2 linked regions of the Homo sapiens genome follow. The protein of the gene in region 2 purifies or fractionates together with the protein of the main gene of each other region. This does not show direct contact. Each region holds a gene or a part of one and is shown on either strand. Other genes may lie near its edges.

Evidence for each region. Proteins that work in one complex are often made in the same cells at the same time.
Region 1: the proteins of R3HCC1 (region 2) and PPP2R2B purify together in Homo sapiens (pull-down; one large-scale study listed by IntAct). This does not show direct contact.

What each region holds. Positions count from the first base shown.
Region 1 is NC_000005.10:146,592,258-146,595,757, forward strand, and holds part of PPP2R2B (serine/threonine-protein phosphatase 2A 55 kDa regulatory subunit B beta isoform), read right to left. Parts: intron 806-3,500; coding exon 714-805; intron 1-713. UniProt on the Homo sapiens protein: The B regulatory subunit might modulate substrate selectivity and catalytic activity, and might also direct the localization of the catalytic enzyme to a particular subcellular compartment.
Region 2 is NC_000008.11:23,286,812-23,290,907, reverse strand, and holds the start of R3HCC1 (R3H and coiled-coil domain-containing protein 1), read right to left. Parts: upstream 2,801-4,096; 5' UTR 2,751-2,800; intron 2,403-2,750; 5' UTR 2,385-2,402; coding exon 2,275-2,384; intron 1,893-2,274; coding exon 1,755-1,892; intron 1,043-1,754; coding exon 439-1,042; intron 1-438.

The sequences.
Region 1 (3,500 bases), on a different chromosome or scaffold from region 2:
GAGAGAGACAGTTCATATTCACTGAAAGCTTGAATCTCTGAATGTCTTGCCATAACAGAATTTCTATGCTTTCAAACACTATTATTGGTGCCACCTTCATCAAGGAACGAAATCAGCCCCTGGTAGCTTGCACTTAGTTCTCATGGAAATCAGAGAATCATTTGTATTTGTCAAACTAAAAATGAACTATTGGGAGGTATTATGAAGCACTGTTCAAATCAAAGGCCTTAAAATAGTAATAAATCACTTTGAGGGAATGTGATAAATGAGGTTGACTAGAATTCAGTTAATGAACTACCAGGGCCGTTGGCCAGGTCTCCACTAGCAGCTTCAAGGGATAATTTTTGATCTGGAAAGCCTACTTGGCATTAATCTGAACTGTTCAGGCTGGAATTTGCTGGTGGATAAGTGATCTTCATTTAGGCATGTTGACCTAGTGCTGGAGGTGTCTTGTGTGAAAAAGATAGGACTTTCTTATTAACATTAAGGTGTTATCTGTGCCAGTTCAGAAACAGGATTCAAAGGCCTTACTACATCCTTCTCTTCTTTCCAGCCTTGACTTCAAGGGTCACTAGGGGCCCACATTATGCATTTCAGCCAGGTTTTGGGGCCCAATTTTGACCTCCCTTTGGCTGTACTCTACTTAGGATAAATTCCCTGAGCCTCTTCAAGACAATCTTTGGAAGGTTCTTCAGCCACAGAGCCTTTCTTACCTGTCTGACCCATTCCACACACACTCAAATTTATCAAAAATGCAGTCATTTTCATAGAGGGAACACAGCTTGCTGCGGAGGTAGTCATGAACCTGGAGAGGAAACATATCGAGAAGGTCAGTTATTATTTTAAACAGTAATTATTTCTGCAAACACCTCCTCTTCTGATGTGAGCTGTTAAATCTTTCATTGTACATGCTCTTTGAATCAGATGGCCTTGGATCTGAACCTAGGCTTGGCCCTTTTAGCTGTAGGACATTAGGATGGGTTGATGAGCTTCTCATGTAGATGATATGGATTAATCAAGCTTGCTTGTATAGACAGTGGCATCCAGTAAGACTAAATAAGTGGTAGATTCTCATTTTCTAAGCTGATTTGCTCACAGGCATTAGAGATCACCATTCATGCAGTCTTTTATTCAACAAATATTTACTGAATACCTACTACGCACTTGAGATGCAGCAGTGAGCCAAATATCCTTGCAGTGCTTTTGACCCAGTGTCAGGTGACAGATTATATAACCAAGTAAATAAATAAGATGTTTAGATGGTGATAAAATCATAGAACAAAAGTGTATGGAAAAAGAGCCTGGGAGATCTTGTCGGGGGTGTATTATTTTATACAGGGCAAGTAGTCAGGGCTTCACTGGATGAGGTAGCACTGGAGCAGAAGCCTGCAGGAGATGAATGAGCCACAGTGATGTCTGGGTTTGGGGTGAGGGGAAGGCTCTCCAAGCATAGGAAACAGCAAACATAAAGGCCTAGAGGCAGGAATCCTGGAGGGAGTGTGGTGGGAGAGGAGTGAGTAAGCAGCTGGGGGAGAGGATGATCAGTTTACATAGGCCCTTTATTCTGAGGAAGAAGAGACCTCACAGAAAGGATTGCTGAATCTGCTGTGTTGCAATGGATCCTAAGGGTGCAAAGGCAAAGGGAGGGAGACCAGTTATAACCTGAGTGATAGATTCTGGCCTGGACCAGGGCATGAGCAGTGATGGGGACTGGTCAGATTCTCCTTTTGTTTAGGGAAAGAGCAGATAGGACTTGGGTCAACTCTGAGGTGTGGAGAGAAAAACAGGAGTCAAAGATGACTCCCTGATCTTTCTCCTGAGCAAGTGGAAGGAGTAGGTACCATGTTCACTTTTGGGTACAATGGTTTAGAGATGTCTACATGTGGAGCTGTCGAGTAGACTCTGAGGTGAAAGGTGCTGTCCTGGAGTATGTGGCGATTCTTTCCTGGTTTCTCTTTTCCAGTGAAAGCAGCCAGCATGGTTATCAACTAAGAGTGAGCAGGAGAGAGAAAGGGTTGAGAAACAGTGTCAGATTTCTGGAAGGCACCAGGGGACACTTGACGTTGTTGGACATGTATGTCAAATAAGGCTCATCAAGCATAGTTGAATATTTTTCTCCAGCTACATTCAGCAACTCAGCTGTAGATGCCAAATAGATGAATAAGGTTCAGAGAGTAGTAGCCTGGGTTCTCTGTTTTGAAGGTAATCCTTCCTGAACCCACTAGCACGGAGTGGCAATAATAACGGGCATACCCAATATGCTGGCTTGTCATTATTAGCCAGGTGCTTTATCTGTCAAAACCTCATTTCATCTCTAAAGCCATCTTATGATGTAGGTACTTTCATTCTCTTTACTTTAATGGAGCATGAAGCACAGAGATATGACATCATTTGTCCAAGATCACACAGAAAAAGTGACAGAAGGGGAGGGAACTGAGCCCCGGTATCAGGCTCTGGAGTGCACACTCTGAGCTGCACTAGCAACCTGCCTCCAGCTTGCTCTGGTGGGTCCTCAGTCCTTGACAGGAGCTGTGATAATGAACTCAAGTGAGGCTGAGAGAGAAGGAGATAGAACTGTGTGAAAGCAGAGGGAGGCTACCAAGGGCATTGGTGTTTAAGTTAAGAGTGATGATTCGATCTCTTTTTTCCTGCAACTGCGGCTCTTTCTCTTCCTTCGACTCCAACAGTTCTGCTGGATGCAGAGCTTCAGGCTCTTAGTCTTGGGCAAAGGAACGAGGTCAGGCTCATCCTATGTTCCATTAGATGTTCTGGGTATTTGAAAAGCTCTGAGTTATTTGGACAGAGGAAGTTATTTCTAACTCTGCAAATTAATTTTCCCCCACCTTTACTCTCTCACTTCCAAACAGTTCCAGGCCTTGTCAGGGTAACAGCTTCAGTGCTTTGGTGACAAGGGAATACCCCTACAGCAGTGCTCTTGGCATTGTTAGGTGCATTTGGGGGCTGCAAGGGTGAGGCTGTGTCCTGCCCTTACAGAGGCATCTCTGCTATAAACTAACTCATTCACCTTCACTAGGGGGCACAGCAGTAAAGGTATATAAACTGGGCAGTGGCAAGGTTTTTAAGGTCTAGTTCCATATGTCTGCTTTGTGATGAACCTTTCCTCATCTGTCACCATTCACCTTCGGCATTTTGTCTTATTACTCACCTGCAGTGTTTCTATAAGTGTCAAAACATGTGTGCTTTGGAAGTCACGCCCATTAGCAGGAATGACATTGCTGAGAACTCTGTAAATAATTCTTGAAAGATAGAAGTTGGGATAGATTCAAGGGAAAACCTAGTCTGAACCATTATTTCTCCACCATACCTAAGGTCTGGGTAGCTCCTATCTGCCTCCAATTGACAGCATTTAAAGAAAAAGAATGTCTACTATGAAGGTATGCTGTATTTATGTTTTGTTGCACAGAAAAAAAGTCTTCTTAGGCAAACCAGAGGGACCTTTTTCTACTAGAGGAAAGAATAAAGTGAGATGTATACATGAG
Region 2 (4,096 bases):
CAACTGAACCCACAGCCAGTCTCAGGGGCAGTCGCACGGTCCCAAGAAAACAAGATTTATAAGATAAAACTTCAGGCTAAAGAGTAATTTCCATGACTGGCATCCGTAACACAAGACGATGTACTTGCACACAGAGTCCATCTCCATGACCTAGTGAAGGCTGTATTATCAACTGGTTTTAGTTTCAGATGAGGAAACTGAGACTCAGCCAAACAAAATAACTTGCCCAGGGTCAAGCAGCTCCTACATGGCTGGGCTGGGACCCAAATCCACACCTCATCTCCTGAGTTCCCTAAGGAATCCCTGTCACCCAACACCCAGCCCTACCTCCCCTTGCACATCCCCTGCTCTCCACACCATAACCCTTGGTCCCCATCCACCCACGGCCACACCCACCTCACCTCCGCCCTCCCTTTTCGGGCTCAAGAGCCTCATCACCTCCTGCAGCAGCTCACTGTAATCGTCCTCCGAGCAGCTGCTGGGGCCATCCTCTTCCACCTCCTCTTCGTCCTCTTCCTCCTCTGCCACCAGCCTCTTCTCCAACAGACTCTCCTTCCCCTTTTCCAGGTCTAGCTGCAGGGTGGACCCAAACCGTGTGGCCATCTCCACCATGTCTCCCTTCCCTGACTGACTCTCAGGCCCCAGAGGCTCAGGGCCAACAGGGTCCAGCAGTGGCTCATTCTCACACCTTTGTCCTGGGCCCTTTAGGTCCTCTGTTCCCTGAGTCATCAGCACAGGGAGTCCCTGATCAGAGTTGGGGTCTCCAGCACCAACATCTCCAGGCTCTTCTGGGTCCCTGCCAGCTGGGGCCTCTCTCTTGAGCACCGAGGTAGAGGTCAGCCCCCATTCTTCCTGCCTGCGCAGCACCCGGGGCACATACAAAGGCTGGTCAGGCTTGCGTCCACGATACCACCGGCCAGCCCGGGCACCTCGGGGAACCGCAGCTGCTCCTTGGTTGGAGATGGGCCGAGGACCGTGGTACCTGCTGGGGCAGGAGGCAGGAGCGCGGCAGGGGCCAGAGAGGCCATCCGAACTGGGTACCCTGGAGCAGGAATGGGAGGAGGTAATCAGAGTGTGTAGGGGCCCAAAGGAAAATGATTTACTAGAGCCACTTGTCATTCAGGAGAGACATTCGGGTCAGCATTAGGCAAAAACCACAGCCAAAATGACCCTCGAAAATCCCTTAGGAAGGCATCACAGTGGAGGCTGTCACTTTTGCATGAGCCCAGAGCAGCCAGCTTGCCCTCTAGTGCTGTGATCCAAATTAGAGATCAGTCCATCTTCAGTTACACACCAGGGGAGGTAAGCTCTTGCATTTAAGAAGTATGCTATCAGAAAAACATGTCACTTCAAACACTAGGATCACAGTCATTAAAGTAAGATGCTCACTGAGACGCACATGGGAACAGAGGGGACCGAAGCCCAGCAGGTGCTTTTCTGGTCTCTGTGGGACACAAGCTCACTGAGAGGAATGCTAGGGAGGCCCCCCGCCACACACCCACTACTTAAACAGATCTCTCTCTCTCTTTTGGCCCAACCATATAGCTGATTTTGCCAAGTGAATTCCACAAACTGCATATCTGCTCCACTGTTGATGCAAAAGGCAGCCCTGGCTGAGCAGCTGCAGCTAGGAATGGCAGCAGCCGGGGGTCCCAGCCCTGGTTCCCCCCAGCCCTGCCCTTCCAAAGGCTGACCAGCTAGCTGGCCACCCACACACCACCGCTGCAGGCACTTCAAGGTGGGAGGCTACACACCTGATGTCCTGGTGACAGATGACCGTCCTCCTCTTCCAGCCCTCCCCAACGGAGAAGCTGCTCAAGAGATCAAAATTCTCTGCTGTTCTATGGATCAGGTACCGGAGGCGACTGGAGAGTGGGGGGAAAAGAAGAACCCTGGGGAGGGAGGGGAAGAAGTGCTGAGCAGGTGTCCAGGGCCTGGCCCCTACCAGGTCCACTCCCAGGTTAATCGCGGATTAACACTGGGCTCCCTTCTGCCCCTCTGGGTCCCAGATGGACTGCAAAGGATCTGAGCATAGATAGAGGTGATCGCAGGGACCCACAGGTCCCATCCCCAATCCCTGTGCCGGGCCCCATCAGTCTGGGGGTGATGCTCACAATTACAAAGATGCAGCTAAAAGAGGCAGCTGGCGTTATAAAGACTAAAGGCCAAGGTCAGAGCCAGCTGCCAGGCACCACCTGGGGGAGGGCACACAGGCGGCTCGGGAACCCTGCCCTTCCCAGCAAGGCGGCACCCTCGCCCCTCACATGAGCCTACTTTGACAGCTGCTTCTGCAGCAGAAAGCGGTCCAGTTCCTCCTGGATCCGGTGGACGAAGTCATTCTCGGCTGAGGAGAGGAAGACACCATCCAAGCAGAGAAGGGCCAGGGTGACAGGTGGGAGAGCCTGTAAGAGAGACGGGCAGGGCCGGGAATCAGAGCACAGACCCCCGGATCTCCCGCGACCCCGCAACGCCGGCACCGAAAGGGCCTTAGAAACCCTCTGGTCCAAGGCTCGGTGGCGGGGAAGTGATGCCAGGGACCCCCGGCAAGTCAGGGGTCAGGGAAGGGGTCTCCTGGCTCCTGCCCAAGGCTCTCGTCCCCGCCTGCGGTCGGATGCTGAGGGTGGCTCCACACCCTGCGCTGCGCTCCTTCCCGGGGCTCACGGGGGCCTGCTCCGCGCAGCCCAGCTGCTCCTTCCCACCCGGGAGCCCGGGGGTCGGGACGACCACCCCCCCAGTGCTGCTGCACTCACCGCGGCCTCTCGGCGCGTCGCAGCCGCCCTCGGCGTCCCCAGGGGCCAGCGCGCCCGAGCGCCCTAGAGAGACCCGGGCCGCTGCAGAGACGCAGCGCCACCGCGCGGCCTGGGGGAGGTAACGCAGGAACGGGAGAGTGCGTGTTCTTGTCACCTATTGGGAGGGGGCGCACCTGCCACCAACACAAACCGCTTCTCCTAGAGTGACACGACTAGCTTTCATATTCATGGCAAAACCGAGACCCAGACAGGTGAAATAACTTGCCTCAAGTTGCACAGATGGTACATTCTAGAGTCTTACTTTGAGCAAAGATAGGTCTGATTCCAAGATGGGCTCTTTTCTTTTTTTCTTCCATGTTGGCACAGTCTTGTAAGATCAATTAAGTTCAACAAACACTTTTGTTCAGCTACTATTAGGTTGGTGCAAAGTAATTGTGGTTTTGCTAATAAGTAAAAAACCGCAATTACTTTTGCACCAACCTAATAGCACTGTAAGCTAGCTAACGGCGGTGCTAGGGTTTCCCATTCATTGTTCCCCTCCCCAGGGACCTAACAGAGGAATAAAGAGGAAGGAAGTTTCTGAGCACCAGATATTTCAGCACTGTTGCCCATCATTGCCCTTCCTTCTCCCGCATTGATGTAACCTGTAAAAAGGTCTAATTCACACCACAGTGGCACTGACAAGGCGTGGTAGCCTTGTGGGTTACTGGGTTGGGCAGCCACTATCACGGTGATTTGCAGCTCAGCAGCTTGTGCTACTCTGCTCCATCCAGAAATAATTCTAGCGTCCACCTTAAATGGGGCTTAAAATTCTTGCCATCAGACAGCCTGTGGGATGGATGATTATAATCTAGGAGACCAGGGTTGAAATCGTTCTGCTCCCTGAAAGTAATTAAAATGCAGTCCCTTGGTCACTCTGAATCCGGAAGCACTGACCTAAGGGCACTTAAGACCTAGGTTTTGGTCAGGGGTGGGGCAGTCTGAGTGGGCTCTGACATAAAGCACAGGCGGGATGGGGGAGGGAGGGCTGTCCCTCAAAAAGCTGACTGGGAGAAGTGGCTTGGGGATGGAGAAATGGAGAAAAAATTAGATGCATTTTGCTGTCTCACAATTTTTTCCAACGCATTTCTAAAAATGACAGTGGCATTATATTATATTACAAAACCTATCTTTCCAGATACCCAGCAAGAAGAATAAAAAATGACCTAGAATAAAGACAAAACCAAAATGCAGAGAGAACTCAGGGAGCTGAGTCATGAATTTCCTTTCTGGGCATGGTTGTGAGAGGAGTTTCGGGAGATCTGACAGGTCCCCAGTCCCTAGACTGGAGGGCATTCAACTCCTGG